Homo sapiens: one gene and its partner. Each later gene encodes a partner of the first gene's protein in a complex. Each region holds a gene or a part of one and is shown on either strand. Other genes may lie near its edges. A codon is read from its position in the direction of its gene.

Region 1 (12,649 bases):
ATGATTACTCCCTTCCCCTCTCCTACAGAAGGAATGTACTTCCCTGATATTAATTGAGGTCTTGCATAGTTAGGCTTGTCTCTTGATCTCTTTTTGCAACGAGAACATGACTCAGCTAGCCTCTGGTTTAAAGAGGATGAGAGATATGTGGAACAGACCAGGACCTGACCTAATCCTCAGAGAGCAGCTGAGTCTCGCCAAGACCAGCCAATCTCCAGCTAACCCAAAAATGCATGAGTAGGAAATATGCGTATATTGTTGTATGGCACTAGGACTTTGGGTGTTTTGAAAGTCAGAAAAATTGGGCTGATTCAGAATTTGATGTATAAAGTACAGTGCTGCCATAACTAAAACCCAAAATATGTGGCACTGGCTTTGGGAATGGGCAGCAGGTAGTCATGTAATTGTTATAGGAGGCTGGAATAATGACAACAGTATTATGCAGTGGCAAAACATTTGGTAAAATTGTCACCTGCAATACTATGGAATACAGAACATGCAGATCTAGTAAACTTGTGAATTTGGATGAGGTGATTTCAAAGAAGAATATTGAAGAGCAGGCTGCTGCCAGGTGCCTTTGAAAAAGCATAAGAAAGTGGTGAGCTCAAAATGAACTGCCTGGGTTACAAACAGAATTGAGAGGAAATAGAGAGTTTAGAAATACTGAAAGTTGTAGGCTTAAAAATGAAACTGTTTCTCAACATGTCCCCAGCTCAAAGAAAAAGTAAATTTTGGCCACTGCCAGGGTAAAGACCAAAACAAGGGTGTGGTGCAGGCCCAAGTGCCCTGAAAGCAGACTCTGAGATGGAAAATAGCCTGTAAAGAAGTGCTCTCAGGATCAACACTTGTGGAAGAAAGGAAGCAAACAAGATTGAGCAGAGAAAGAAAGTGGGCTGTAATTAATTTATAAAAAGAACTTAACCAACCCACTGAAGCTAGATTGCTCCTCACAGTTGTTTCCAATAGAGGAAATGAAGCCAAGTCTTTAAAACCCTACATCAATTAGTTATTGCACACTGGCTGCCCCCTGAAGAGAGCATGAACTACACAGGGTGCCTCTTTTCTATTGAGAGTGATTCCCAAAGAAGACTGACAGCTGAGATCAGTAGAAATCCCAGCAGCTAGAGGAATAAATTCTTTAGTCATGAAGGATGATGTTAATGGCACAGTAGATTATCCAATTCAATTCACCCCATGCTCCACTCAGACCTTTATTTTTGCAAAAGTTTTTGAAGCAGCTCCAGAACTTGGGAAGAAAGTTAGCGAGATACATAGATTCCATTGCAAAGACCAAAAGTGATACTCAATATATGCTTCCTGATCTACCATTCTAGAGTTTCCTCACCTTGACTAGCTCCTCTGCTGGTCTTGTTGGCTTACCTGGTGGGATGATCCAGTCACTCATCCTTGAGAGTCACCATACCTTTCTCAGGTCATCAATACTTTACTAGTCAATTTACTGTCAAAGTTGTGCAAGGGCATACCAAGAGATGCCAAATACATTCCTTTTTGCCATCACTGTATAAGAGCAGCCTGACCTCCTCCCAGTATTTAGAATGATAAACCTGCCAGGATGGTGACTGCTCTCGTTGCCTGATCCTTTGGCAGTAGAAGGCAGAAATGCCCCAGTGACAGCCATAGTTTAAAGTTCACTGGGCCTCTTGCTGTGTCTCCTGGTGGAAATGCTCACCTTTTGGGAACAATACCTCTAAACCTACAAATCTCAGAGCTATGGAGATGAGTAGCACAAAATCCCCAATTGGGTCACTGACAATGATGGTAAACAGGACCACCTCTACTTCTACATTTGATTCCCATATCCATAAATTCTATTTGCTGGGAACACAGCAACATATGCTGGCCATTGATTCAGAGGGTATACTGCATAGGGTATTATTGTATCTAAGGTGGTGCTTAAGCTGATTCTTCAACAGGCCATTCCGTTGCTCTATCCGGCCGGCAATTGTTTACAGTTCTGGGTGAAGTGTTATGTGAAAGAATCAGTGAATCACATGGTCACGTGCTCACTACCACATCTCTTTTGCAATAAAATGAATCCCTTTGTTTGATGTGATATTGGGAAGATCCTGTGTCATGAGATCAAACACTCCATAAGTATGGTGGAAGCAGCTGAAGCACTATTGGCAGGAAAGGAAAATCCATACCTGAAATATGTGTCAATTCTAATCAAGATGAATCATTCATTGCCCCTTACATAATAGAAGGGATCCATGTAATTAACTTGTCATTTGATTCTCCTCCATGGATGATTCTATATCAAGGGCTCAATATTGGTCTCTGTTCCTGACAGGTTGGACATTTGGCAGCAGCAATAGCCAAATCACTGTTGGTAAGTGAGAGCTCATGCTGTGGGGCCATCCACAGTCATGATGACTACCCTTCTTGTGCCCATTGTTCCAGCTTTGAGGATAGAAGCTTGTTGATGCCAACCATTGGAGTCATTCTGTTTATTCAGTACCTCTTTTGTGATATATCCTTTATGGTTGGTGTTCACTTGTAATGCAAAAATCTTTACACTTTGTGCCGAGTCCCATAGGTCCATCCACATACTTTCTCATCAGACTTCCTAGTCCTAAACTTTCTAACATTTCTTCTTCCTTAAAGTAGGCTCTTCTACTACTTATCACTGCTATAACAAATTACCATAAACTTAGTGACTGAGACAACAGAAGTATTGTCTCTTACATTTCTGTAAAAGTCTGACACAATTCTTACTGTGCTAAAAATCAAGGTTTTAGCAAGGCTCTGATCCTTTCTGGAGGCTTTAACAGAGAATTCATTTCCTTGTTCCTTCTAAATTCGAGAAGCCTTCCACATTCCTTGGCTCATGGCCCCTTTATTCCATCTTCAAAGCCATTCTTCCATAGTCACATCACTCTCTGGCCATAACCAGGAAAGTGTCTCCTACTTTTAAGGATTCATATGATTAGATTGGACCCAACTGAATTATTCAGGAAAATCCCCCCATTTCAAGGTCCTTAATTTTAATCACATCTGTAAAGTCCCTTTTGCCATTTAAAGTAATATATTCACAAGTTCTGGTATTACGATATAGTCCTCTTTGGGGAGCCACTCTTCTGCCTTCCATGATTTAAGTCCACATGGCAGTCTAAAATATGTCTTTGATCTGTTATGTATCTATGTTTGTGGTTACAGAACATTCACAAGCATTTAAAAATATTCTTTGCACCATATTCTTCCAACAGCTTCCAAATACATTGTTTTATCCCTAAGAATACCTTCACACAAAAGACTGAGTAAAGCTACACTTTAAATATTATCCTTCTTAATCTCTTTGTAATTGTGTTTCTTTGATATGGGTCACTACTAATTTTAACACAGCTGTTTATGTTATTACATAACAACTTTGTGATCTTATTAATTTGTTTATCTTATTATTAAAATCAAATTTAGTAGCTGCTCTGGTCTAAGGGAGGCAAATATTTTATAAATCATTACTACTATATGTTAAGCTCTAATATGAGTTTCACATTCATTATTTTATTCACCTTTAAATGAATCCTATAAAAGAAGTCTAGTATCACTATTTTACAGATGAGAAAACTAATGTTTCCAGTATCACAGAACTAGTTAAGTATCGGAGTAGGGCATACAAATATAGGTCTTTTTGACTCTAAAATGCATACTATTTTCACTATATCCTTAATAAATTCCCATTGAGTAAATTAAATTATTTGTAGAGGTATACTATACATCCAGCACATTTCATGAATTTCTCATGCTGTAGAAATCATGTCCAATGTATTACACAGAAGCCTTGGGCCACTAATAATTCTTGAACTGACATAGTTCAAGACGACCTAGATAGAAGCATACTGGCTAGAAACAAAAATCAATGGTAAATATTTTTATGAAATCACTAGACTTGTTTTTTACTTCATTGTTGGTATCTTCTAATTTGACCTAAATCTACTGTGTGGTCTATAGTGTCCTGTTGCTTAGCAAAACCTGGAACACATTATAAAGAATACCTATTTAATGTTTCCATCAGTCCTGAAACATAGATACATTCTTGAAGACATGCTATTATATTGTTCTAAGACTCTTTGTGAGCAATTTAAATCCTTTTGCCATCTCAGCCCAAATGAAGTGAAGGGTTGTCCAAACAGAAAGTCTGAATAATTCAGCTTCTCTTGGGAGAAAACAAAGTTAATCTCTCTGGAATCTATATAGCTGCAGAATCACTGGACCATTGAACAACTCTCTACTTCACTTTGGTAGTATAGATTTCCAAGATCCATGAGCATAAAATAATTATTTTTAAACTTTCGAATGAAACAGATTTAAAGTAAAACGGATCAAGTATATAACATTAACGTATTTTAATTAAATTTGACATTTAAAACAAAAGATCAGCATATTTTTAAATGAGTATAAAAATTTAAAAATGATCAGCATATTTGAAATGATTTTTAGCTTTCTAAAGTCCATCCATTATTATGAGGCTTAAGAAAGACTTCAGAGGCTGCTTAAACATTTCAATATTTTCATGTAGAGGTTCTTTATCAACCTTGAAATCTGTCAATAAATGTAAATAACAAGAAAATATAAAGTAGGCAGATTTTTCCTACTATGAACCTTGATTTTATCTATATCACTCTTAGTTGAATGGGATAAATTAACACTTTCTTGAAAGTTTCCTACCATACACGTACATTTAATTTTTAAATATTCAGGACCTGCAGAATATACTATGCCTATTAAGGTTTTTTTATTATAATTATAGACCTGTTAGATACTTGATTTGCTTATCAATTCAAATCAATTTAGTTCTGGCCAGGCACAGTGGCTCATGCCTGTAATCGCAGCACTTTGGGAGGCTGAGGCAGGTGGATCACTTGAGGTCAGGAGATCGAGACCAGCCTGGCCAACATGGTGAAACCCCATCTCTACTAAAAATACAAAAATTAGGCTGGGCATGGTGGCACATGCATGTAATCCCAGCTACTCAGGAGGCTGAGGCACGAGAATCTCTTGAACTTGAGAGGCGAAGGTTGCAGTGAGCGGAGATCATACCACTGCACTCCAGTCTGGGCAACTGGAGAGTGAGACTCTGTCTCAAATAAATAAAAACAAATCAATTTAGTTCTATTAGCATGTAGTGAGAGTCCACTATAGGGCAGACTGATATCAAATTTCATGGTATAGTCAGCTTTCTAGTACACTTTATGTACTTCTTAAAAAGAGGATAGGCCAGGCACGTGGCTCATGCCTTTAATCCCAGCACTTTGGGAGGCTGAGGCGGGCAGATCGCCAGAGGTCGGGAGTTTGAGACCAGCCTGGCCAGCATGGTGAAACCCTGTCTCTACTAAAAATACAAAATTTAGCCAGGCATGTTGACAGGTGCCTGTAATCCCAGCTACTCAAGAAGCTGAGGCAGGAGAATCGCTTGAACCCGGGAGGCAGAGGTTGCAGTGAGCCCAGATCATGCCATTGCACTCCAGCCTGGGCAACAGAGTGAGACTCCATCTCCAAAAAAAAAAAGGATATAAAGTAGGAACCTAGATTAATTAATTTGTAGACCTTATGCCCATGCTAAAATTAAACTTTCTAGATCCTATAGGACAGAAAATATAATTTTGTTTGCTCTAATTTTTTTAAATTTAGACCTTTAATTGGGATAGACAGCTCAACAGTCCCACAACTCCTTATTATCCCCAACAGATTTCCTTCACCCATTTACATTAGCTGTATCTAACCCCTGCAAGTATTTGAGTTTCAGCCTCCGAAATCTAATCACTTTATTTTATAATAAGAAAACGAATGGTCACAGAGAATAAATAACTTAGCCAAGGTTACCAGCTAGCAAGTGGCACTGAGCCAGAGTCAAAATCCAAGTATAGTGGCTCTTTGTAAAAGGCAGTGTTTTCATCTTACTATATTTTCATTCTCTTTTTCAGAACCTAACATTTGTCTGAAATAAGGACCCTCCGTAATTTTTTTTAGCTTTCAAAAGTGCCTCGTGGCACTTACAATTTTTATTCATATCCCAAGTTTCAAAATATCATTAACAGATTAAGCACTTTACTACATGCTATTTTGGTGTTTGCACTACTCCCCCGCCTTTCCACTGCCTTTTAGCTGCTCTGAGAGCTGGTAAAGAGAGACGAGAATTATACAATTACATAAGATAAAAGAATGAAAGGTTTAGAGAGGTGAGTAAGAATGAGGGGGTGGTAGGGTCGTGGGCGGGAATAACTGTAGAGGAAGGACAAGGAGAAGGAAAAACTGAGACAGTGGTTCCTGAATATCAAAGACAGGAAGAGTTGAGAAATAAAGACAGCCAGTCATCAAACACTGTTCTTTTATGGGATGTGCTGATTCTGTGTGTGTGTATGTACATGTGTATATATATATACATATATATGTGTGTGTGTGTGTGTGTGTGTGTGTGTGTGTGTGTGTGATTTGCTAAGTCCACTCAAATTTTAGGCAGATTTTTCCCTTAGGCTCATGTAGCCAGTCCCACAAAAAATTATGAAATAGGCAAAACTTATCTTGAAATTCTCCTTTGTACTTTCTTCCATTAAACTGTATTACAAAATGCAGTGCTTTTTTTCTCTGGTTCACCCCAGGCTGAAAACTGGCTCTCTTTGACACTTTAGTTTTAAACCTAACTCTCTCCTGGAGTATTTACATTTGAAGTCCCATCTCTTAATTGTTGAGTAAAAGAACCTCTCTTAAAGGAATTGTTTAAATATCAGTAAGCAGAGAGGTTTGGAATTACTAGAGGGTAAAGGAATCCTTCCTAGAGAATCTCTAATTTCACAACCAACTGTGACTTTAAGAGGTCCAGCTTGTTCATATCTAGCCTAAGTACTCAGCATACTCAGCTCTCTAGGTTACGTTTTAAATTGACAAAAAAGGTACAGAGAGTCTGAGAAGGCAATAACAATCACCAAGCAAACTGGTACATTCATCAAAAGTTAACTAAGGAATGCATCAGTGAAGACATTCATTCTAAATAAGCAGATATAATCCCTGATTTATATTCAATTATTGGTGATTAAGGTGAAGTAGCTTTTCTCATCAATTTATCTACTTAATTATTCAGTAGGGATGTGGACTTTAACCAATTTATGAACAATATCTTATTTCTCTTCATAATTGAGAGAAGCACCAGTAAAATAAGCAGAATTTCCATAAACTGATCAACTGAGATCACTAAAACGTTGATTGCTGTAAACAAAATAATAAAGGTCAATAGAAAAATTGAAGTTTACCCAAACTTTCCAGATTCTGCAGCCAGACTGCCTGGTTTCAATTTAGGTTCTGCCACTTACTTGCCTCAATTCCTTATCTATAGACTTGAAATAATAATAGTACCAAAATCATGTGATTGCTGTGAGAATTAAGTTAGTATTTTAAAGTGTTTAGAACCATGCTAGGCACTCTGTAAGTGCTTGCTAAATAAAATACTATAATTTTATCTCTTTCCTGACTCTGATGGCAGTTACTTAGGTCTACAAAACGGCTCCATAAATCTGATGTATAATTCAAATTGGCATTGAATTTACACGTCTATATCCAGTTAACCTGCTGCCTTGAGCATGGTGCAAGTGAAGAAAATATTATTTTACTTCATTGTATGGTTGTAGCTGTCAACACTTCAAAAATGCATTTTCTCTTAAGGGAAAGTGGACATTAGGGTATAAATGATTTATTGCTACTTGGTTATGTTATGTTTATACAATGAAGGAGAGCACAGTTTTGCCTTCAAAGCCCCTAACACCTTTTTTCAATAGCTTTATTGAGGTATAATTCACATACTGTACAATTCACCCTGTCATCAATAAACAATACTAGTGTTTATTGAATGGCTATTACGTCCCAGGCAATAAACACAAATTGTTTCATTTAATCTTCATAAAAATCCCTTAAGGTAGGTATTATTATACTCAATTTTATGATTCAATTAAAGGGCAAGAACTTTGCAGCTAAAGGTTGAAGTGAGGTTTGAACTTACATCCATGTAGCTCCAATATATGTTTTCCATATTCTGCAGCTTCCCTTCAGAAAATTACTTTGTTCTCTTTCAGAGAGTGACTGGAAAAAGGGGGAAAATGTGACTTTTAGAGGGTAGCCGTGGTTAGAGAAACTCTTAATCTTTTAACCTGTCAGGAGAAAAGCCAGAAATAGCAGTCACTGAAAGTTGTTTTAAAACTCTCAATTCAAGGTTGGCATGATAATGCAAAATAGTATTATTACGCAGAAATAAGCAATCATAATCATAATACTGATATACACAAATCATAATGCCAATATACACTACTTTCACTTGGATTCAGCACTTCCTACTAGCATAACTACACCTACCTTTATCGCATTCTCACCAAATGAGTTAGGGTTTAAAATGGGCAAACGAGAAATGATGTGGGGATTCCGGCCCATCTTTTAGACTTTTCACATCAATATGGTATGTTAAAATCACACCCCTGGACATCATGCTCGGGAATACTTAAGTAATTTTGCCACAATTCATTTACTAAACAAATATTTAGGTAATTTTTACATGTCCATCAGTACTGTGCTAACCACCAGGTGTACAAAGGCTAAAACAAAAGATGAACCCAGTTCCAGCTCTTAAAGAGTTTACATTTTAGTTCAGGCTTTCAGAAGGAGAGGCAGTGAGTGTGCTATACTGTATAGCATGTGGGCTCTTGAACCAGCCTCTCCACTCACCTCTCCACCTGCTGTGTGACCTTGGCATTTGATTTTTAAGCGACTCGATTTTCTATTTTGTAACATAATCGTTGACTTCAAATTAAAGACATATCTAGTTTCATTTCAGGTGTACGGCACCATACGAAGATGGGGCTAAGAAAATGTTACTATCCTGTATAAACAAGAGGGTTTCTCGCACGTTTTCTTCCTTTAGTATCTGGCATTATTCAATACTGTCCATATTCTACTCCCTGTTCACCGATGAACTGGGACATGTTTTTCACTGCAGCTTAGTCGTCTGGGTGTGCCTGGGGAGGCGTCACAAAGAGCCTATAAAGGGTCCCCACCTACAACGGGAGTAAGAGCGCTGGAAGGAACCCAGGAAGGGCATGGAGACCAAGCGTTCGGTTTCGGAGTGTTTTTTGTGTGTGCCCATATTCACCGAGCTTGGGTTCTCCCACTCGTAACGAAAAGCCCAGTCACTGAGCTGCTACATTTTCTGCCATATCTTAGCCGTCCCCACGCCCCCACACCACCGCCCCACCCTACCTCACCCTCAAGCGTGAGTGAATGCGCAAATAAGGGTTTTCAAGGCGTCAGTGGGAAAGAGGGAGGGGAAGGCAACGCTGAGGACGGGAGGACAGGGCGGTGGCATCCCTCTAGCGAGAGAGAGCCAGAGCCCTCGGCGGCGAGGAAAGCTAAAACCCGGCAGTCCCGGGCCAGAGGAGGCCAAGGCAAGATGCTGGACGGGCGGGGACCGATGGGGGGCAGCAGACCATGGCCGCGCACCCAGTGCGCCCCCGGGGCCTCCTCTTGTCCCGAGGAGCACCCCCGCTCCCGGTGTCTTTTGGTTTCGACCGGCCGACTGGGAGGGGCCGTGGGACGCCATTCCCATAATGCTCTGGGGCGTGCCGCCGCCGTCGCTGCCACCTCCCCTACCGCTAGTGGAAGAAGATGGCGGAAGGCGGAGCGGCGGATCTGGACACCCAGCGGTCTGACATCGCGACGCTGCTCAAAACCTCGCTCCGGAAAGGGGACACCTGGTAAGAGAAAGGGGTTGAGATGCCCGCGGTTGCCCGAGGATAGTGGAGAAGTGGGCGGGAGCCGCGAGCTGGTTCTTTCGCTAGTGACAGGTGCGGGCAGGTCCGGCGGCGGCCGCCGGGGCAGCGGGATTTTGGCCGCTTCTGAAATGTTGGGGCAAAGGTTGGACTCTAGATGAGGGTCAGGGTTCTTGGCTTGCCAGGGCATGCTGAAAGGTATCCGGGGAGCGGCGGCGGCGGCGGTTCTGACTCGTGCGGTTCTCTTCGTCCTCCTTCCTTCCGTAGTGCCGCTCCCACCTCAGGCCTTCCCGAATGATAGGTTATAGTGGTTTGGTTTGAGTCTTATATACGCCGTTTTGACAGGTCCCGGTGCCGCGGCTTATCACGATCTCACCGGCTTTACTTCTCTGTTCATTTCCTTTCCTAGAATTGTCGGCGTCCAAGTTCCCTTTTATTCTGATTCTTGGTCTTCCGGGAGGCAGGCTGCAGGATGTTTGCGGTCTGTACTACACAGGTGGCATGTCAGGGCTCCACATAAGAGAAAGAAACCCTAGTTTCCAGTTCCTTGTCAAAGGAGGGAGAGGAGTAGGGAACCTTGGGCTTATGAGAGACCACGTGGTCTTGTGCTTTAGTGGTGGCTTGATAGAAGCCGGCAGCGTTTCTGTTAGACGTGCAGCCCTTCCCTTCTGTTTGAAAGATAATGTAGGCCTGCAAAAAGTAGATAAGTCCACTTGAGGCTTAACTAACTGCTAATATTCAAACTTGTAAAATACCAAAGGTTATACATTTAAAATACTGAAGGATGTATGTGGACATTTTCACACTTGTCGACCATATCAAGTGGCATCTACAATAACTTAAATATGTGAATATGTAACATAATTTAAAATTCCTTATTTTTTGGGAAGCATAATGTGCCTCTTCATTATAATAAAACATATTTTCACTTTCCACTGTTACCATAACAGTAGTATATAATTCATAGAGTGTTTCAGTATGGCATAGTGAAAGGAACAGTAAGATTTAGACCTGAGTTATGTCACAGTTTCACCACTCAACTTGCAGTATGGCTTTGAGGAGAGTTAATTTAAATCATTGCACCTCATTATCTTCATGCTGTAAAATGGACAGTAATTTTATTATAAGGATTTTATCTTGATTCGTTTTAATATCTTAAGAATTTCATATTTATGAGATATCAAATTTTAGTTATCCTCTTATCTCTGCTCTTTACTCCTGACAAAAGGCTGTGATATTGGGATCATTTTCAGTTAAGCTAATAGGTGGCAGACTTAGGACCTTAATTTAACCTTGATCTAAGTCTTAGTCTCTTTTTTCTTTTTTGGTAGGCTATATACTATGTTTGTATGATAGAAATCCCTAAGGATGTAAATACATACTTGTTTCATTATATCAAAAAAATAGAATCTTCAAGTGACTTAATAATAGTTATTGTTGGCCTGGCAGGGTGGTTCACGCCTGTAACCCAGCACTTTGGGAGGCCGAGGAGGGAGGATCACTTGAACTCAGGAGTTCCAGACCAGCCTGGGCACCATGGTGAAACCCCGTCTCTACAAAAATACAAAAAAATTAGCTGGGCATGGTGGCACGCCTGTGGTCCCAGCTACTCAGGAGGCTGAGGTGGGAGGATTGCCTGAGCCTAGGAAGCGGAGGTTGCAGTGAGCCGAGATCCGGCCACTGCACTCTAGCCTGGGCAACGTGAGACTCCATCTCAAAAAAAGAAAAAAAAAAGTTATTGTTTTTATTATAATGTTAGATGTTTATTACTGTGGGGAAATTGGACATTTCCTAGGACACCCATGTTTACCTTGGCTTGTGGTAATGACAAATAAGTCCCCGCTGGCTATTGTAAGTTAAAGAACATTTAAAAATTCTTAATTCACCCAACCTAGTACCACCTTATTTTAAAAAGTGAATTTCCTTAAAATAGAAATCTGTAAGTCTATAAGTTAAAATATAAGTGTTATTGTCTCTCATTAATGTCACGTTTTTGTATATAGAGTAATTGGTAGCATTGACACTACAGGATGATAGGAGCAATATGTGCATTGTGGGCGTTTAACTTTATGAAGTTTGGTATTTTCAAATAAGTATATTTTTGCTTTTTTACAAAATTAATGTAAATTGTTTTATATATGTGCGTGTGTGTGTGCGTGTATAGCTGTATAGGTACAGTGTCTCACTATATTGCCCATGCTGATCTTGAACTCCTGGCTTCAAGTGATCCACCTCAGCCTCCCAAAATGCTAGTATTACAAGTATGAACCATGACTAAATACAAGAGGCTCATAAATTTAAGTCATTTCAGTGCTTTTATTTTAAATAAAAGTAAACTGAGGGCCACATATTTAGATAAAAGCAGATTGTGCAAGTTTATCCTCACGTTAATTTTCTCTTAAAGGAAAAAAACTGCAAGAGAAAGATGGTACTGGGAGTTGCAGAAACCAGTTTGGTTTATTTGTGAGCCAGTTTATTTGCAAATTAGCAAGTGAAACCTGTCCAAAAACAAAGTAGTAGAGAGCAAAAATTTGATTCAGAATTTTAAAGAGAATAATTTGATAAGTATAAATTTGATGATGAACTTACAGGTACAGAACTGGTGGTGATATGTAATAATTTAGTTTATGTTTTTGGAACTCACTAGAAAGTTGTTTTTCCTTTTAATATCTTTTTTTAATCTTTGAATCAGGTTATTTGAAATTTGCCCTGTGGAATATTGTCGTGGCATATGTATGTAACTGTCTAGGAAAGACTGATTGGGCTGTTGAGAAAAAATGGTGGGTTTACCATAAGTTTATTCTTGAAAGTTTAATACACATGTCTGAAGTTATAGTCATATGCATCACAGTGAATAAATTTCATTTACTAGCTTTTGAGCACTT
Region 2 (12,756 bases), about 46 Mb from region 1:
CAAGGTTAAAGAAATGTCCTCTCTCCCATTTTCTGATCACAATTCACAGTCCCCTAAGGGCCAGGTTCTGGGAGCAAAAGTGCCTTGTCTCATTTCTCCCTTCACCTGAGGACAGTTCCTGACAAATCACTTCAGAGCTACCTCCTGCCACAGCAGGTTAGGTCTGAGCTTCCTGGCCCACAGGGGCTTGCCAGCCAGAAGGCCGTGAGCCACAGGAAGCAGGTGGCACGTGGCCTGGCAAACTGCTCTGCTGTGGAGCTGGCCAGCTTCCAAGCATGCTCCTCTGTGACTCAGCTCCCTGAACCTGGTCCCTTGGGGCAGCAAAGATGAGTGCCTTGCTGGTTGGCTTTTCTGAGAGGTTTTGACAGCAACTGGATTTTAGAAAGTCCAGCTCTTCACTGTGTTTGGGACCTTTGACCTCTGCAGCTACCAGGGAAAGACACTTGGGAGACAAAGGGATGAAAAAGAAGTTCTAGCTCTTTATTATCTCTGCCTTTAGAGGGCTTGCGATCAGCCACCTGGATCACTGTTCTGATTTCGTTGTTCACTTTGCCCCCACCCTTGCTGTCTTTTTGATTATTTAATCCCTCTTTTAACACAGGCTAGTTTATTTCACCAATTCTTGAAAGCCACCTAGAACCCTTCCTGAAACATGAGAGGAAATAAACAAGAAAATAACTACCTTATAACAACTCTCTGACTTGAGAAATTATAAGAGCACTGGTAACCTTAGAGAAAGCCAAAGATTTCTTTTAAATTCTATTTTGTTAGAGGGACAGGTGAGGATCTTTTTTATATGTAATTAACACCCAAACAAACAAAAAAATAAAAATGATCAACAAGAAAAAAACCCAAACAACACCTAGTAGAATGATCCATAATTCCCAATTTGAAGAAATGATAATATAATCAACATCTGCATAGGAGAAATTTTAAAAATTTAGAATATTAAAAAAAAGTCATGGTTACTTGTTTTTGACCCATTAGATTTGTGAGCCACCTTACCGTCTTTCCTTTCACCCATTCAGTGGCTAATGAGCTGGAGGCAATTGCGGAACCACAGCCAAATGTTTTAAACCTAGCATCCACAATCTTCCCCTTTTCATCCACTTGAATCTAGAAAAGAGACAAGAGTTAAGTGGTGAGTCCTGGGACCACCCTCTGGAACCTGGCACTCACGAAGGTTCACCAGGGCCTTCCCCAAGGGCTTTGGGCTTGCTTTCCACACTAAGTGATGGCATTAATTACTGACTTTGCCTTGTTTCAAAGAGCTCAGTGATGAAAAGTGAAATGCAGGGACAACTATCCAGGCCCAACTGACAAAGATCAGCTGAAAAATATGTCCCTCCACTCCAATATTCTTTTGTTTTGTGACTCTGGCCTGCATTTTGGCTATGAACTTCTATTTGTGGAAGTCTGCTCACAGCTGCTGGGGCAATCTGGCCTCTTTAAACACTGACAGAGTCCACAATAAAGGTCTCTGGTTAATACTTTTTTCTTGGGCAGCAGATTACACTTAGTGGTTTCCTCCTGTTTTGTTTCTGTATTCCAAGATAGGTATGAAGACCTCTGGCAAGCTGCCCACTCACCATGAAGCAGCAGATTGGTGCTACAACTACAGTTTACCCAAAGCACTAGACACTATTTTCATGTTTCCCCCAATCTGGGGACAGGTTTAATTTACTGTGTTTCTTGTTTCATTGGGGACTGCTAGCTCACTGGGATTTTCCTTTGATCAGTAAAATTCACAAAACTCTTTAGTTGGCTGAAGTCAGAATTTAAACTGATACAGTGAGTACAAAAATGAGATTACTTTTCTATTTTGGAAAAAGTTGGCATAGTACACTAGCCTAGCAGGAGAGCTACGATTGAGGCCCTGCTCCAGTCATATCTAACATGGACTCATCCCATCTCACAGGAATGGAGACCAAGTGAAATGCTTGGAGATCTCACAGGAATAAAGATGGAGACCAAGTGAAATGCGCAAGTGCTTTGTAAACTTAAAGGGATTATTGTTATCACTATTAAAAAAGACTAGCCATACCTGTAATTTCATTACGTCACCACATGCTGGAGCCCCCACCAGTCCAGTTCCAACATTTTTAGATGTCTTGTCAAGGGACCCCACGTTTCTAGGATTTTCATAATGATCAACAACCTAAAATGAGAGGGTTAAGATAAATCATGTTCACTCTCTATTGGTACTGGTCTCTGGTTTGATGGTAAGCTCCTCGGTCAGCATCTTGAACCTGGCAGGCAATCACTAAATACCAAATTTCACCTGAGTAGAAAGGTCTACACTCATGTCAATGAGAACCATTTGTGACCCCCAATTCCTTTTGTGTCTCCTCTACAATACTTCACAGATTTGAGATACCTAGAAGAAAAAAAAATCAGTGAAATCATGTCTTAGTTCCATAGGATTTTTACAAAAATACTTGACTTTCACCCACCTACATCACCAGACTTGGGCTCAAACAGCAGTTTTGTTATTTTCAAATAAAATCCATCCTCAAAGGATGATTACTATTTAAAAATTCTAAAAATAACCATGGCCCAGGGAGGGAAAGCTTTCTTAGAAGCCTTAAGGTGACTGTTACACAGGGAACAATGCTATGGAATGTGTACGTTTATGTGTCTTTTAAAATAAAAACAGTGCCATTACCGTATTTCACAGCCTGTCATCACCCTGGTGCAGCAGCGCACCCTGGCTGCTGAAAGGCTGCTAGTCCAAGTTTCTTCAGGGTGTACCCTCAACAAAACACACCCCCGGGAGGGGGAGGAGTGAAGAAGCCCTTGGAGAAAGGGCAGAAGCCAGATCACAATAAACATCCATTCGAACTGGCACACAGAAGGCCTTAATAACCTTGAGGTTTGGTTACTGGTTAGTAGTAAGCACGCCGATCTTCCAGTCCCCTTTTCCCCCCATCTGACTAAGGATTTTGACTCCAAGTAAAAGGGACCTCAGGATAGTATCTAATGTAGGGGCCTTTTGTGCCACGTTGATTTATGGCATTCTTTAGTTGTTTCTCGAGTGGGAGTCTCACGTCTGGGGGACTTTGTGCCACCAGACAGCAAGGGGCTGCAGACTATGAATCTATCCCTCCTTCCCCGCCAAAAAACCCCCCAAACAAAACAAAAACATTACGCATGTTGGTTACAAGCCTGACTCCCCTATGCACTCCTAAAGCAGTAACAGAAACGGTCTCCTCGTGCTGGGGCCTATGTGCCAGGAACCATGCCAGGACTCCACGCACAGTATCCTTTGTAAGGGACAGCTGAGAGCCCCCCATTTACACCTGGGGAAACAGGTTCAGAGAGGCGCAGTGACTAGCCCAAGGTCATCTGGCCAGGGCAGCGGAGTGGCTGAAGCCGGAGCCCGCTCCGGGGGTGTGTCTGTCCCTGGACTCAGAAAGACAAGTCCCAACAGGACCCTGCCTCCTGGGCTGTTGGCGAATTTAAAATTGGGACGCACGAAGTCGCGGCCAGCGGCGGGGCCCCCTGGAAGTCGCCGCCCGATGAGCGGTAACTGTTGTTTATCAGTTGCAGTGAGCCTCACTGCGCAGCAAGGGAAAGCGAGTCAGGGCAAAGACGTGGGAGGGGACAGCTCCCAGTCCTAGCTGCGCAGAACCCCGCGGCCGCCCCTCCAGCCCAGGCCTCCGCTGAGTCGGCATTCCGCGCGTCCCTCTTTTGTCCCTACCTTCTTGTGATAGAGTCGGGCCGGGGCCGACAGCTCCCGGGCGGGCAGGCGGGGGCTCCGCAGCAGCAGAGCCGATGCCGCCCGCCTCAGACGGAAAGCCCCAGCCGCCGCCATCTTGCCGGCTTGCGCCTGCGCCAGTCCAGAGCGACGCCGAGGGGCGGGGCGCGTCTGCGAGTCGGCTCCGAGCTGGGAGCGCGCCTCTCTGACGTCACCGAAGCTTTGCGCCTGCGCTTTACCGCTCCGTGCACGCGTCCGCCTTCTGGCCCCGCCTTGACCACGCCTCTCGGGGGCGGGCGGGGTCGGGAGCGGGAAGGTCTGAAGTCGCTGGAGGGCTTGTCCTGGGTGCTGGATTCTGGTTGAGACAGGACCTCAGGGCTTCTGCAGTGTGGGGCTCAAGTTCGCTTTCACAAATCCCGCTGCGGGAATGCGGCGCAGAGGAGCACCGAGTCCACTTTTCCTAACCCTATTTTGCAGCTAAGGAAGCCGAGATTCAGGGCAGTTTAGTAAGTCCGTCCAAGGTCGCTAAGGACTTATGTTCAATTAGAATTCGAACTTGGGTAATCCTGGGTTAGAATCCTGGTTCGGTTCCTTCCTGGCTGTGTGTCCCTAGACGAATGGTACCGGCTCGCTGAGTCTGAATCTTCCCTTTTGTATTAATTCGAGGACAATTGCTTCATCATGAAGCCAGCATCTGTGTCGAGTACCTACTATGTGTCAAGGCGCTCTACTAGACCCGGGGATCCAACGGAAAGCAAAACAGACATAATTCCTGCCCATTAAGCCTGCTAATGAGGGAGCAAGGTAGAGATAGAGACACACACCAATACTTTCCTACCTCAAAAATGGGAAGCTTAAGAAGGAAACGAATACCATGTCCTGATTGAAAAAAAATGAATATGTCTATTTTTCTCTCTAAAACAACAGCAAACTCAATTTATATGTCAGTGCCTAGCAATTAAGAATTTCTAAAGAAATGCGTATTAATGTAATTTACTGTTGGTTTGCAGTATGTGATCTTATAAAACCGGAAAACTCACGTGTATTTAACGTCTACTAGGTACCAGACGTTTACATAAAGGGGAGGAATCTGGGAAATGGATTTTTCTCTTGAATGGTGAAATCGATCCTTCCCCGAGGACCTGCAGTTTTCTTTGCGTTTGAGGCGCAGTTGCTGGGGAGAGTAAACCCAAGCGCCAGGTCACACTAGGCGATAAGTAAGGCATTTAATCGAAGAATCACTTTGACCTTCTCAAGATGGCGCCAAATTCTTCACTACAGACATCACTCTCGCTCCATGACTTCCTCTATGGCTTCCACTTCCTGCCCAAAGACCCAACTTCTGTCCGAAGTTGTGACGGAACGCATGCCATTATAATGAGTTTTTATATCTGGTGGGAGCTTTTACAGGGTATAAAATAATGTGAATTTAGTGTATGTGGAGATTTTCCTGTTATCTAAGTTCCCAGTTTCTCTTTCAATGGCAAGAAAACGGGTTTTTGATAAGGCGCGCGCCGCGGGCAGCTTCTGCCTCAGCGGGTCTTCGGCGGCCGCGGGAAGACCCGAGAGTCATTAGAAGCGCAAGATGGCGACTGCGGCCGAAACCTCGGCTTCAGAACCCGAGGCTGAGTCCAAGGCTGGGCCCAAGGCTGACGGAGAGGAGGATGAGGTTAAGGCGGCTAGGACAAGGAGGAAGGTGTTATCGCGGGCTGTGGCCGCTGCGACATACAAGACCATGGGGCCAGCGTGGGATCAGCAGGAGGAAGGCGTGAGCGAGAGCGATGGGGATGAGTACGCCATGGCTTCCTCCGCGGAGAGCTCCCCCGGGGAGTACGAGTGGGAATATGACGAAGAGGAGGAGAAAAACCAGCTGGAGATTGAGAGACTGGAGGAGCAGGTGGGCCCGGGGGTGGGCAGCGGGCATCTTCCAGTCTTTCAGGTCCTCGGGTCCCCATGTCCTGGCCCGCCTCCCTAGTCCTCGGCGGCGATAAAGCCGCCAAGGCTGCAAACCCGCTTTTCGTGACAGTAGCTCCTGTCGGATTTGAGTGCTTACTGCCTGCCCATTGCCTTGCAAACGTTATCTCATTGAATCCTCGCCACGACCCTGTGAAGGAAGCCCTGTTATCTATCCCCATTTTACTGGAGGAAACTGAGGCTCGTGGAGGAAAGTTTCTTGCTCAAGATAACACTTCCTGCAAGTCAGGCCTTGTACTTTGATCCCATTCCAGAACTCCCACTCTTAACCACACGTCCAACAGTAGAAATAAACTCATTCGCAAGAGAGTGTTATTTTGTTATGTAGGAATGACGGCGATGATGAAACTTGTGGTAAGAAAAATATTGACCGCGATGGTGATAATAGAAATGGAAAGGTTTCTGGTTCTGGAGGTTAAGGCCTCAGTTCTAGCTGTTCAACTCTTGTATGTGCTTGTAAGAATTTCTTAATTTCTCTCACCCTCTCGACTTCCTTATCTGCAGATTGGGAGCAACAATTTCTGCATAATATAATTGTTGTAACAGTAACTATAGCTCAGTGCCTAGCATCTAGTCATAACATGGTCTCTCACTTGTAACCTTATGAGGTGGTGATATCTACTGTATAATCCAGGATCTCAGCAGGAAATAGGTGGCACATTTAAATTAGGATGATCTGAGAGAAACTCAATAAAGGTGTGGGTAGGGAAATCGGGAGTGAAGGTTTAGTATCCCATAGCTGGTAACTCCAGAACCTGGTGTCCATCTTTGGGCCGGAAGGGGTGAAGGGTGTGATCTGAATTGTGTGGAGAGGGCACCTGAGACCTGCTGATAACTTTGTTCAAGGGAAGCAGCCCCAGTTTCCTGTCAAGGATTGAGGTGGGGGAAGAAATACCCTGACCTCTCTTTCTTCCTCCCACCAAACTTCTGCTGGTGCCTCCTGCTGGGCAGACCCATCTGGAAGCTGGAGAGCCAGGAAACCTGTGCATGAGGTCTATACTCGGGGACACAGGGCAGGGAGGAGAGGGTAGGGTGTTTTTTGGAGGGGGCAAACAGAAGAGATGGAGCACATTCTCTCTTTTTTTTTTTTTTTTTTTTTTTGAGACAGAGTCTCGCCCTGTCACCCAGACTGGAGTGCAATGGCACCATCTCGTGTCACTGCAACCTCTGCCGCCCTGGTTCAAGCGATTCTCCTGCCTCAGCCTCCCCAGTAGCTGGGATCCAGGCACGCACCATTGCGCCCGGCTGATTTCTGTATTTTTAGTAGAGACGGGGTTTCACCATGTTGGTCAGGCTGCTCTTGAATTCCTGACCTCAGGTGATCCACCCACCTTGGCCTCCCGTAGTGCTGAGATTACAGGTGTGAGCCGCTACGCCCGGCCCGCATTCTCTTTTTACAGATGAAGAAACAGAGGTTCAGAACAAATGATGAAATGATTTCCTTTAAGTTATTCATAGTGGGATTTACACTTAAAATGTGGACTAGATGCCACACTGGATGTGAAATCACTCAGTGAATGTGAAGTTGCTAATCTAGTTTACTCATTAAACCTTACTGAGTGTCAGTTTCCTTATAATACTCTCTCTGGCACTGATATTTTTGTTATGAGATAGTGATGTCATCCATTGGTATAGCTTGTCCCACCCATTACATCTGATTGTCAGAGGAACCTGTTGGGGTTGGCAGGTGGTTAGCATTTCTACTTTTTTTTTTTTTTTTTTTTTTCTTTTTTGAGACGGAGTCTTGCTCTGTGGCCCAGGCTGGAGTGCAGTGGCACGATCTCGGCTCACTGCAAGCTCCGCCTCCCGGGTTCATGCCATTCTCCTGCCTCAGCCCCCCGAGTAGCTGGGACTACAGGCGCCCGCCACCAAGTCCGGCTAATTTTTACTATTTTTAGTAGAGATGGGGTTTCACCGTTTTAGCCAGGATGGTCTCGATCTCCTGACCTCGTGATCCGCCCGCCTCGGCCTCCCAAAGTGCTGGGATTACAGGCGTGAGCCACCGCGCCTGCCCTCTACTTTTTATAAATAAGTGTGCTGAAGCTAATTTAGTCTTACTCATTCAGCAAACACAGCGTGACACTGGGTACCAGATTGACTGTGTCCCTGCCCTTGTTGATGTCATTTCTTCAGACTGCTAGTCCTGGGCCTTTCGATGAGCCTATTCTGTGAGGTGGGGAAAGAGAGGTTTGGGACCAGAGAGGTTAAGTCCTTGGTGAGGGTACACAGCTTGCTAAAGAGCAAGAAAGGGGAGAGCAGAGGTCTCTGGCCACTAGTACTCTGCAGTTGCCTGTCCTGCCACAGATCACCAAGGATGGGGTGGAGTTTAGAATGGACCACACAGGATAGGACCTGGCAAGTGATGAACTGAAGACCCTCTGGCCTTATCCTCTTTGTCCTGTGGTCTAGAAATGGACTTGTCCAGTTTCTCCAAGCCTCCCACCCACCTCATCCTGATCCCACAGCTGCTTCTTCCTGCTGTAACTGCTTTTATGGCGGAGCATAATGATGAATTGCTTCCAAATAGGTCTGTGAGAAACTTGGCCTTGCCATATTTGAGAGTTCTGGTTCTCATCCCTCAGTGTTTATTAATTTTTTTTTTTGAGAGCATCTCACTCTTGCCCATGCTGGAGTAGTGGTGTGATCATGGCTCACTGCAGCTAGGACCTCCCAGGCTCAAGTGATCCTCCCAGCTCATCCTCCAAAGTATCTCGGACTACAGGCATGCACCCCCATGCCTGGCTAATTAAAAATATTTTTTTTTTGTAGAGATGGGTTCTTACTATGTTGCCCAGGCAGGTGCTGAATTCCTGAGCTGAAGTGATGCTCCTGCCTCAGCCTCCCAAAGTGCTCGGATCACAGGCGCAAGCTACTGCACGTGGCCTTGATTATATTTTATGGTAGCTGGCAGTTTGCTGTGGTATCTGTCTAACAAAAGCAAATATTTTCCATTATATGTGTTTGTGCGCTGAAATTAAAAGTGGCACTTCATGGTGGCTTCGGCAGATTTGTCAGTGCAGCAGTACGGAGACTATGGCTTTGCAACCCTGAACCCAAGCCTTCCATTGAGTAGTGGAAAGGCCTTGTACAAGTTATTTCAGCTCGCAGAGTCTTGGGTGTCCCAGTTAGTAAAATGAAGGTTGTAATAGTGCTTTCCTCATGGGACTGTTGTGGGGCATGGCACAATGTGCGTAAAGCGCCTGGCACAGTTTGGCGCATAATAGGTGCTGCTCCATTCTCCCTTCCCTGCCTTTGATTGCACCAGTTGTTTTCTTTCCATCAGTCCTCTCTATTATTTCTCCCCCATTCTAGTACAGCTAGGTATAACACATTTTTCACATTGCTAGGGAGTTAAATCAGTTAGCAGATCATTTTGTGATTGGTTAAGTTTCCTTTAAAGCATCTATGTTGTTAATCCCAGCTACTCGGGAGGCTGAGGCAGGAGAATCGCCTGAACCCGGGAGGCAGAGGTTGCAGTGAACTGAGATCACACCACTGCACTCCAGCCTGGGTGACAGAGCAAGATTCCACCTCAAAAAAAAAAAAAAAAAAAAAAAAACTATGTCATTAATGATGTTCTAAGACCAGAATAGACCAGCATATGTACTCATTTATCAGTATAGATTGAACTATGTGGAAATAGCTCTTTTAAGTGCATTTCAGTATGTATTTAATATATGTACTTTCAGAGTACTTGTCCACATATAGTATCTTCATCATTTTACCCTAAAAATCAGAAGTTTACACCAAAAGCCACACCTTAAAAGTCAGCTTCTTGACTTTAGCGACTTTTATACCTTTTTCTTCTGCTGATCCACACATGGTGTTCATGTGAGGGGCACTTGCATGCATAGATATTCGTGACACTGACTAGCAAGTGCTCTCCCACTCCTGTTTGTGCTCCGCAAGCACACTCTATTGAGTTCAGACTGGTGATGTGGTGGGGAGAGCCTTGAATGTTCTTTAATGAAGAAAGTGTATCCTTCTCAAACTTCACTTCTCAAACATCCCAAACTGCGGTTACTTTGTGTGACACACTTGATAGGTGATTTTGAAACATCAGTGTGTCATGATAGCCCATTTAAGAACCAGAGCTTTAGCCCAGCTCTTTCATGGTACAGATGAGGAAACAGAACAAGTGGGGATTAGAACACTTGTGTCCTGATCTGGTCCAGTGCTTTTCAGCCTATCGTGTGATCATCGGATGAGTTCAGCTTCTCAGGTTTTATGAATCATAAGCAGGAGAACATTGCTAAAAGTCTTAAGATTTAAAACTTAGAGATCATGTTCTTATCTGTAATTGATTATTATCTTTTGGCATGTAATTTGATAAATACAAAGCAGTTCACATCATGTACAAGAGTTTCTCACCAGATGCAGTGGCTCACACCTGTAGTCCTAGCATTTTGGGAGGCTGAGGCAGGATGATCCCTTGAGCCCAGGAGTTTGAGACCAGACTGGGCAAGATGGTGAGACCCTGTGTTTACAAAAAATAAATTTAAAACATTTAGCTATGTGTGGTGGCATGAGCTTGTAGTAGCAGCTACTCAAGAGGCTGAGGCGGGAGGATCACTTGAGCCTGGGAATTTGAGGCTGCAGTGATTTGTGACTGCCACGGCACTCCAGCCTGGGTAAGAGTGAGACCCTGACTCAAAAAAAAAAAAAGAGAGTTTCTCAAAGTCACTGTTTTTCAACCTGGGGGTCATAGTCATAGGTTGTGAATTTATTTTAGCTGAAACAGCAAGTGCCACCTGAGCCATAGTGTTTTTCAACTGCATGGGTCTGTTTTGGGCTCTCTCTTCAGTTTGTCTATCCTGTGCCAATTCCACTGATTAACTTATTGCTAAGGCTTGCTATCTGGTAAGACAAATCCTCCTACCTGCTTTTTTTCTTTCCTTGCAGGGTGTTTTGGCTCTTTCATATAAATTTTAGAATTATTTTGTCAAGGTCTGTGAAAAACCCTGTTGGTTTTTTTATTTGAATTGCATTGAATTTATGGATTATTTAGGGGAGAATTGACGTCTTTGCCATAATGATTATTCTAACCCAGAACATGCATATAACTCCATTCGTCTAGGTATTGAATATTCTTTCTATTTTTGAGACATGGTCCTGCTCTGTTTCCCAGGCTGGAGTACAGTGGCATGATCTCAGCACACTGCAACCTCCGCCTGCTGGGCTGAAGCGATCCTTTCACCTCAGCCTTTCGAGTAGCTGGGACCACAGGCATGTGCCACCAGACTCAGCTAATTTTTACAGTTTTTGTAGAGACGGGGTTTTGCCCTGTTGCCCAGGCTGGTCTTGAATTCCTGGACTCAAGTGATCTGCCTGCCTCGGCCTCCCACAGTGCTGGGATTACAGGTGTGAGCCACCGCCCCCGGCCAAGTCTTTAATATCTTTCAATCAAGTTTAAAAACATTTTGCCATAGAGGTCTCACACATCTTTTGTTAGATGTATTTCTAGGTACTTTATAGTGCTTGATGTTTATGCTATCCTATTTAAAATTACATTTTAAAGCTTGCTGGTTTATAGAAATGTAATTTTTTTATTGTAAAAAACATATAACGTAAACTTTGCTATCTTATTCTTAAGTGTATGGTTCAGTAGTGTTAAGTATAGTCACATTGTTGTGAAGCAGATCTCCAAAGTTTTCATTTGCATATATACAACTCTACCAATTAAACAGCTCTCCTTCTCCTTCCTTCCCAATCCCCTGATAACTACCATTGTAGTTTTCTGTCTCTATGAATTTGACTAGATACTTCATATAAGTGGAATCATACAGTATTTGTCTCTTTGTATATAATTGATTTTTATACATTGCTCTTATTGCTTGTCACTTTGCTAATCTTGTTTATTATTTCCAAATGATTTGTTTGTAGATGAGTTTTGGTTTACTATACATTGATATCATCTGACCATAATTAACAGTTCTCATTCTTTTCTCTATATCTGTTTCTTTTCCTTGTCTCATTGTTAAAACCCCAGACCTCCAGTACAGGGTTAAATAGAAGGCAATACTGGGAAGTTTTTTGTGTTTTTTAAAAGGAATTTTAATGTATTATTAAATTTACTAAATATAAATATATAAATATATAATAAACAATATAATAAATATATAAATATGTTATTAAAATATATTTATTGCAGATTTTAAAAATCAGGTTAAGGAAGTGCCTTTCTATTCCTAGTTTGCTAATTCTTAATTTTGACTCATGAATGGATGTTTTAATCAAATGCTATTTCTTCATTGAGGTAATCATGTTTTTTTCCCTCAAATCTGATGGTGGAAAAATTATACTGGATGATTTTGTAGTGTAAAAACACCCTTGCATTCCTGGGATAGACCCAAATTGATCATTATGTATTGTTCTCTTTATACATTTCTGATTTTTTAATATTTTATTTAGGATTTTTGTATTAATGCTCTTGAGTGAGATTGACATGTAATTTATTGAATTCTGTGTGCCAGGTAGGTAAAGAATCTAACCAAGTCAAGGATAAGACATACAAGGTACTTATCCCATGAAGCCTTTAGGTCATGATGGAAATAAACACGATGATGAGATGGAAAACAGCTTGCAGCATATAGGGGGCTACTTAAGAAAGAGTGGCATAGGAGGGGGGCCGGGGGCGCCCTCTGAGGAAGTGAAGTTTATACCTGAAGTATGAAAAGGGGTGGCTAGGCAGAGAGAAGGTGAGAGATCCTTCTGGGCTGAAGGAGCAGCAGGTGCCTAGCCCTGAGGTTGGAGAGACGTTGGAATGTTTGAGTTACACGAAGCTGGCTGCCATGTTGAGAGGCCGGTGGTTTGAGATGTAGCTGGAGAGATGAGCCCAGCATGCTGGGATTGCACATGAGGCAGGGATTTGCAAATTGTTCCTAGGATACTGGGAAGCCATGGAAGGGTTTTACTATTATAATTAGTAGAGAAAGATAATGAGTTCTTGTTTAAAATCTAAACACTTGAACAAAACCCCGTAATCCTTCATATTTGTATTCTCTGAATGGTTGGTCCTTGTCCCCACTCCATTTAAAGGTTCACTGGCTACTTCATTGTTAAGATTTTTATCCTAAAGTTCAAGT

What was found.
Region 2: the proteins of USP15 (region 1) and SART3 are in contact, whole or in part, in a crystal structure (PDB 5JJW), measured with the Homo sapiens proteins. Residues at the interface, in NP_001239007.1 of Homo sapiens: Ser23 (codon at 9,727), Leu24 (codon at 9,730), Asp48, Trp50, Gly121, Met122, Phe123, Val124, Lys125, His126, Lys128; in NP_055521.1 of Homo sapiens: Ser438, Ser439, Lys440, Glu443, Gln490, Arg493, Glu494, Trp496, Asp497, Met500, Thr501, Ala505, Trp511, Tyr514, Arg533, Cys537.

Annotation. Positions count from the first base shown.
Region 1 is NC_000012.12:62,250,755-62,263,403, forward strand, and holds the start of USP15 (ubiquitin carboxyl-terminal hydrolase 15), read left to right. Parts: upstream 1-9,649; 5' UTR 9,650-9,660; coding exon 9,661-9,749; intron 9,750-12,649. Other genes in the region: TAFA2 (chemokine-like protein TAFA-2), read right to left, coding at 8,009-8,088, 8,725-8,790. UniProt on the Homo sapiens protein: Hydrolase that removes conjugated ubiquitin from target proteins and regulates various pathways such as the TGF-beta receptor signaling, NF-kappa-B and RNF41/NRDP1-PRKN pathways.
Region 2 is NC_000012.12:108,553,681-108,566,436, reverse strand, and holds the start of SART3 (spliceosome associated factor 3, U4/U6 recycling protein), read left to right. Parts: upstream 1-5,263; 5' UTR 5,264-5,282; coding exon 5,283-5,594; intron 5,595-12,756. Other genes in the region: iron-sulfur cluster assembly enzyme ISCU isoform 2 precursor, read right to left, coding at 1,006-1,116, 2,045-2,158, 3,701-3,814. UniProt on the Homo sapiens protein: U6 snRNP-binding protein that functions as a recycling factor of the splicing machinery. Promotes the initial reassembly of U4 and U6 snRNPs following their ejection from the spliceosome during its maturation.